Linked DNA regions of Homo sapiens. The protein of the gene in region 2 interacts with the protein of the main gene of each other region in a biochemical or structural test. Each region holds a gene or a part of one and is shown on either strand. Other genes may lie near its edges. The genes, in order: DYNLT2B and GTF2F2.

Evidence for each region.
Region 1: the proteins of GTF2F2 (region 2) and DYNLT2B form a complex in vitro, tested with the Homo sapiens proteins (one study listed by BioGRID).

What each region holds. Positions count from the first base shown.
Region 1 is NC_000003.12:196,290,666-196,294,508, forward strand, and holds the end of DYNLT2B (dynein light chain Tctex-type protein 2B), read right to left. Parts: intron 710-3,843; coding exon 662-709; coding exon of another isoform or gene 639-661; 3' UTR 554-638; downstream 1-553. UniProt on the Homo sapiens protein: Acts as one of several non-catalytic accessory components of the cytoplasmic dynein 2 complex (dynein-2 complex), a motor protein complex that drives the movement of cargos along microtubules within cilia and flagella in concert with the intraflagellar transport (IFT) system.
Region 2 is NC_000013.11:45,266,957-45,270,777, reverse strand, and holds part of GTF2F2 (general transcription factor IIF subunit 2), read right to left. Parts: intron 3,546-3,821; coding exon 3,402-3,545; intron 1-3,401. UniProt on the Homo sapiens protein: TFIIF is a general transcription initiation factor that binds to RNA polymerase II and helps to recruit it to the initiation complex in collaboration with TFIIB.

The DNA.
Region 1 (3,843 bases), on a different chromosome or scaffold from region 2:
CATTGGTAGAAAATATACCAAAATTTTTACCATTGGTTATGTTTGAACAATTGAAATGGCTTTTCCCCTACTTTTTTCTCTGTGTTCCAGTGTAACAAGAATATAGTAGGGCCGGGCGCAGTAGTTCACACCTGTAATCCCAACACTTTGGGAGGCTGAAATGGATGGATCATGAGGTCAGGAGTTTGAGACCAGTCTGGCCAATATGGTGAAACCCCGTCTCTAGTAAAAATACAAAAATTAGCCAAGCGTGGTGGCACTTGCCTGTAGTCCCAGCTACTTGGGAGGCTGAGGCAGAAGAATCACTTGAACCCAAGAGGCGGAGGTTGCAGTGGGCCGAGATTGTGCCACTGCACTCCAGCCTGGGCGACAGAGAGAGACTCTGTCTCAAAAAAAAAAAGAAAGAAAGAGAGAAAGAGAGAGAGAGGGAGAGAGAGAGAGAGACAGAGAGAGAGAGAGGAAGGAAGGAAAGAAAGAAGGAAGGAAAGAAAGAAACAGAACATAGTGTAACAAAATCAAAACATTAAAAATATAAGGCCTAAAACACAACAGATTCAGTTGTCAAACTACTAACATCTTTATTTTGTCAAGATATTTAACAATATTAAAAAGTTCAGATTTCTTCATGGTCATGTCTTTTACCAGCTTTTCAAAGATTCATTCAGTAGTAGAAACAGCCAAATGCTGCTACAACGCAGAATAAACTGTCCTAAAAAATAAATACAACACACACACACATCCAGAATGTTAGTACTAAAGAGGGAATGAGAGCAGCACAGGCAACTGAAACTAACACCATCTCAGATCTTTCCAATTTTTTTTTTCTTTTTTGAGACAGGGTGTCACTCTATCACCCAGGCTGGAGTGCAGTGGTGTGATCTCAGCTCACTGCAGCCTCGACCTCCTACACTCAGGCAATCCTTCTACCTCAGCCTCCAGAGTAGCTAGGACCACAGGTGCCTGCCACCATACCAGGCTAATTTTGTTTATTTTTTGTAAAGATGAGGTCTCACTATGTTGCCCAGGCTGTTCTTGAACTCCTGGGATCAAGCAATCCACCCATGTTGGTCTCCAAAAGTGCTGGGATCATAGGCGTGAGCCACCTCACCCAGCCACCAATTTTCAATCAGGAAGACTTTTTCCTTCTTCAAGAAGTGAAGGGTTTCCAGAGTATAGCTACACTATTGCTTGCCTGAGGGTGACTACAAAATTGCTTGCTAAAAGGTTAGGATGGGTAAAGAATTAGATTTTCTGAATGCAAAAATAAAATGTGAACTAATGAACTTTAGGTAATACATATTCATAAAATAATTATTCACATATTTCCTGATTTATCACAGAAATAATGTATGAAATGCTTTGAGTTTCTTGGAGTAAACTCCATTACTCATCCCAAGAAACCATATTATAAGTATCACTGATAATAAGAACAACAGGACCTTGTCATAAATTCTGGATAAGAGAAATAGTCTCTGGGTGTTTGTTCTTAATTGATAAAATTTACTTGTCCATCTTTTAGTTCAGAATCACAAAATGCTTTCCAGAGCCCAGTCAAATTGCTTAAAACATTTTTAGGCATTTATTACAAGATTTCCACCTGCCTCAGCAACTCCTGCACCACTAACCTCACCTCCAGCCTGGTAATGATGGGATTAAAACAATTCCAACTCAAGTACCTGATGATTAACCAAAAGCAAAATTCTTTGGTTTAGCCCAGCTCCCTGGCTCCTTGGGTGGATAACTCTGAACTGTGTTCTACGACAGTGCTGTGATAAAGGACCTGCTTTGTTTTTAACTTCCGGTCCTTCATGGAAGGATGCTTTTGTAAAATGCAATAAAAATAGGTAACTCAGAACATGAAATGAAAAAAAGGAACATACAAATACAGCCCCAATTTTTTTCTTAGATTCACTGCACAGAAGATTACTTTGTCAAATTGCTGTAAGAGTTTCTAAACCAACCCTTATACTCAGTGTATTGTTTACCTCATCATGGACCTGTAACAAACAGGTCACAGAGCCGTGCTGGTCTGTGCACCCCACTGTGAGTGGCCCTGTTCTACAGCACCACCCAGAGTTCTCCAACAGGACTGAGCCCTGTCATCCAGCAGTTTTCCGCTCAATACCACATGATTTTCCCTCCTTTCTCATTTCCTCTGCCTCTACTAATGTTTCCTGGAATCTCCCAAATAAAGTGCTTTTTTTTTGAGACAGAGTCTTGCCCTCTCGCCCAGGCTGGAGTGCAGTGGCACAATCTTGGCTCACTGCAACCTCCGCCCTCTGGGTTCAAGCAATTCTCCTGCCTCAGCCTCCCAAGTAGCTGGGACTACAGGCGCCCGCCACCTTGCCCGGCTAGTTTTTGTATTTTTAGTAGAGATGGGGTTTCACCATGTTGGCCAGGCTGGTCTTGAACTCCTGACCTCAGGTGATCCACCCGCCTCGGCCTCCCAGAGTGCTGGGATTACAGGCGTGAGCCACCACACCCAGCCTAAAGTTTTTTATTACATATTTGTTCATTTGAGTATTGAGTGGCCCCCACTGGATGTTAATAGGCAGAAACCATGCCTGTCTTATTCATCATTTTGTCCCTAGCCCCTCAGGTGCAGAAGCTGACACATAATAGGAGCTCAGAACTATTTGTTGAATGAATGAATTGTATCATCTAAAGATGCATTTTTTGGCCAGGCCCAGTGGCTCATGCCTGTAATCCCAGCACTTTGGGAGGCCAAAGCAGGCAGATCACCTGAGGTCAGGAGTTGGAGACCAGCCTGACCAAATAGTGAAACCTTGTCTCTACTAAAAAATACAAAAATTAGCCGAGCGTGGTGGCATGCACCTGTAGTCCCAGCTACTCGGGAGGCTGGGGCAGGAGAATTACTTGAACCTGGGAGGCAGAGGTTGCAGTGAGCCGTGATGGCACCACCACTCTCCAGCCTAGGTGACAGAGTGAGACTCCGTCTCAAAACAAACAAACAAGATGCATTTTTTTTTTTTTTTTTGAGACAGAGTCTCGCTCTGTCTCCAGGCTGGAGTACAGTGGCACAATCTCGCCTCACTGCAACCTCTGCCTCCCAGGTTCAAGCAATTCTCCTGCCTCAGCCTCCCGAGTAGCTGGGATTACAGGCACCCAACACCACACCTGGCTAATTTTTGTATTTTTAGTAGAGACGGGGTTTCAGCATGTTGGCCAGGATGGTCTCAATCTCTTGACCTCATGATCCGCCCGCCTCGGCCTCCCAGAGTGCTGGGATTACAGGCATGAGCCACCGTGCCTGGCAAAAAAAACCATCTTCTTAGCTTGACTATTCCCCCAAAGATAGCTGATAAATTAAGATTTACATAGTACTTCCCACTGTCCAGCCCCTGATCCCTAGGGTAGTTAAGCATAAAATAAAACTTTGGTGGGGCTGGGCGCAGTGGCTCACGCCTATAATCCCAGAACTCTGGGAGGCCGAGGCGGGCCGATCACCTGAGGTCGGGAGCTCCAGACCAACCTAACCGACATGGAGAAACCCTGTCTCTACTAAAATTACAAAATTAGCCAGGTGTGGTGGTGCATGCCTGTAATCCCAGCTACTCGGAAGGCTGAGGCAGGACACTTCAACCCGGGAGGTGGAGGTTGTGGTGAGCTGAGATTGTGCCATTGCACTCCATCCTGGGCAACAAGAGCAAAATTCTGTCTCAAAAAATAATAAAAATAAAAATAAAACCTTGGTGAGACCATAGAATTTTAGAGCTAAAAGCTACCTTAAAATCATCTACATAAGCAGTGTCCATATCTGGCAGTCAGCAGAATCATGGGGAACTTTTTAAATATTCTGATTCACTGATCTAACCCCTGGCC
Region 2 (3,821 bases):
ATTCAAGGTTAAAAATCAGAGTATCAGGGAGAAATAATAGGCCTCCTGTAATTTTCTATTTTTGAGGGGGGAAAAATCCAGAAGTTAAACCATATAAAAATACCTGCTGTGGTTTGTATATCTGTCCCTTCTAACACTCATGTTAAACTTAATTCTCAATGTGGCAGTAGTAAGAATTGGGCCTTTGAGAGGTGACTAGGTCATGGGGGTTCTGCCCATTCATAGATTAATGGGTTATCATGGGAGTGAAATTGGTGGCTTTATAAAAAGAGGGAGAGGAAGAGAGACCTGAGCTAGCACGCTCAGCCTCCTCACTAAGCGATGTAAAAAGCCTCTTACCAGACGTGGCCCTTTGATCCTGGACTTCTCAGCCTCCAAAATTTTAAGAAACAAATTATTTTGCTTTAAAAATTGCCCAGCTTCAGGTATTCTGTTATAAGTAACAAAAAACAGACTAAGATAATATATCTTTAAATGGATACTATGTCCCCGACTTTATATCAGTTACCAAAGCTTGGCCTCCTTGATGAGTAACTTTCACTCTTTCTAGTTGCTTATGTAAGTCACATACTGGCAAACAAGAGAAAAAGACGGGCCCTAAGCAAAGTTTCTCTAGCCAATAATTTTACTTATAGAAATGAAGGTTTTGGCCAGGAACGGTAGCTCACGTGTAATCTCAGCACTTCGGGAGGCTGAGGCATGTAGATCACCTGAGGTCAGGAGTTCAAGACCAGCCTTGTCAACATGGTGAAACCTCATCTCTACTAAAAATCCAAAAATTAGCCAGGTGTGGTGGTGGGCGCCTATAATCCCAGCTACTCAGGAGGCTGAGGCAGGAGAATCGCTTGAACTCGGGAGGTGGAGGTTGCAGTGAGCAGAGATTGTGCCATTGCACTCCAGCCTGGGCAACAAGAGCAAAACTCCATCTCAAAAACAAACAAACAAAACACCCCACCCCCAAAATAAATTATAATTTGAACATATTGGTAAATTTTATATTATTACATATGTTAAGTGAACTAAATATAAGTAATGTATTAAATGTATTTAAGTACCTTGTCCAGGACTATTTGGCTAAATGGTAGAGCTGGGACTTGAACTAGGATCTCATACTCCAAATCCAGGTTCTTTCCATTATACCAGAACACCCCCTTTCCTGGACCATTGATCTTCATGCTAGAATAGATTCCTCAAGTCTCTTGGGTACTGATGACCATTAGTACAGATTCACTTATGTCCTCGAATCCTTTTAAAGGGGGATAGTTGCCTACTTGGGGGAGAGCTAGACTTTGGCAACTTTCTTTCCCAGTCAATGGACTGGAATCCATGCTGACCACTTCCTGCCCTCTCCTCTAGGAGGAGGTAACTACCTCTGGCCTACCCCCAGCCTGGGGAAGGCATTCCACACTTTCTTGGCACTGGCTCTTTGCCCCAACCTCACTATAAATGACGTGAGAGGCCTGCCAAAATCCATCTGAAGAAAATATGGTGGCCCTTGGAGACTGAGGATTTTCTTTTTTCAAATCAATTCATGAGATATTTGCTGAATTTTTACCATCTTTTACACTATGGGGTATATGAATATTTAGGGATAGGAATAGCATACAACTCTGCCTTCAGGAATCTTATGCTTATTGAGGCAATTTAGTCTCTAAATAATAAAACTATTATTTAAAAAGTTAGTTTTGAGATCAGCGGCTTCTATGAGAATCTGATACAAACTATGGATGATATGTTCCCCAGAACAATTCATACATTTTTGCAGATTTTCAGGAAGTTAATGGATCCCCTTAAGTCCATCCACTGGTTAGGAATTAAGAAGCTCTGTTGTAAGAGATTCACTGAGTACTACCATATAAAAAATATCTTAAGAACCAAAACCAAAAGACACACTAGTAATACTTGTTCTTTGATGCAAAATGAATAAACCTTATATCCCATGTGAAGGCAAAGAAACTGCTTTCCCTAGTATCATCTGAATGCCCCTCTACAAGTGATTATTTTCCATATCTAATTTTTTGTGTTTAATTCCATGAGAATCTCGTCTGTTTTCAGAGTTTCTGGAAGGGTCTTTTCATACAGATATATTTATATATATAAATACAAAGATAAATTTCATTAAAACCAGAAGAAACACAGCTTAGCTAATGAGTTATTTATTCTATTTCAAAAAAAATTTTTAATCTAGCTTAGAATGCTGTTTCTAAGGCTTTGATGCCAAAGGGAGTGAAGTCATTGGGATGAATTGATAATACTCCACCATGAGCACTTTCTTCTTATTAAAAAGTAAATCTTTTGGAATTCAAATTAATTTCTTAACAAAAGGCAAGGGTTGATGTATAATAGTAAAGAAATATCTGCAGGAGAAACTGTATAATGAACATTAAAATTTCATAAATCATTTCCTAAAGCTTTGTATAAATAAAAAAAATCAAGTCCTTTCACAAATAGGTTATTTGGTTATGTTAAGATGTTTTTTAAAATTGGTTATTGTTACATATTCTGAATCCAATAAATGGAGCAGCAAGAATCAACAGATTCTTGAGTATACCGGCAGAGTAGACAAAATGGTAAAGGAAATGAGATAAAAGGGTTTCCATTCAATTTTCTTAAACCTATAAGTAAATACTCAGTCTGATACTTTGGTGACATGTGGTGGAGAAAGTTAAATGGAAAACAATGTGACTCAAAGACTAGAAAAAGAATTTGAATTTCTTATTGTTATCATCATTTTAAATGGATTATTAATGCAAATTACTAGTAAATGCACAAAAGCCTAGAGAAGAGATAAAAATGACTATAAAACAAACATAAACTTTCTAAAATACGAATTTGTTAAATTTGTCCTTAAAAATGGGGAACAGGCCAACCTAATCACAATCTCTGCAAGCATAATTTGAAAGTGCAGTTCAGTTCAGGTTTAAAAGGACCTACACAGATTCTAATTAAAAAAAAAAAAAAAAAAAATCCACAGAAAACAATTCACAAGACAGGGATAAACCCTCCCACAATGACAAAACAGTATAATTCTTTAAAGAATGCGATTTTTCTATGAGGCATGTTTTCCAAAAAAAGGGAAGGAGTTAAACTTTCTCAGAGGAAGATAGGGAAACAAAATAAAGACCAGAAATGGTATCAACAGATTTCAGGCTTAATGTCAAGAATAAATGAACATGAGGATAATTTCTTTTCTTCATAAATAATTATTAAGAGTACTAAAATGTAAAATAAAAGCTGATGTTACCAAAAATGGCTGCATTAAGACATCTTTTCTGAGTGTTGTCATAAAATTAGTCATTAGCATAGGTAAATGTGAACTAAATCATGTATGACACACTTTCAGTAATGTCGTGTTAATGAAGGAGGGCATATTCAAAGGATCAGTATGAACATATACATACCACAGGTTGCTTTGTGATGTCCACCAAGTCCTTAAGATTATAGTATTGATGTTTCTCAAAGGCTGAAAATAGCATGTCTAAAACATGTTGTTTATCAGCTCGAGCTCGCTTTCCGTCTTCTTTCTTTTTCCTTTCATATTCGATCTATATGCAAACAGCAAAGGAAATAAAAGCATCAATTCAACATGCTCACTCTAAAACACAGGCATTCTCTTTTTTTTTTTTTTGAGACAGAGTTTTGCTCTTGTTGCCCAGGCTGGAGTGCAGTGGCATGATCTCAGCTCACTGCAACCCCCACCTCCTGGGTTCAAGTGATTCTCCTGCCTCAGCCTCCCGAGTAGCTGGGATTACAGGTGCCCGCCACTACGCCTGGCTAATTTTTTGTATTTTTGGTAGAGACGGGGTTTCACCATGTTGGCC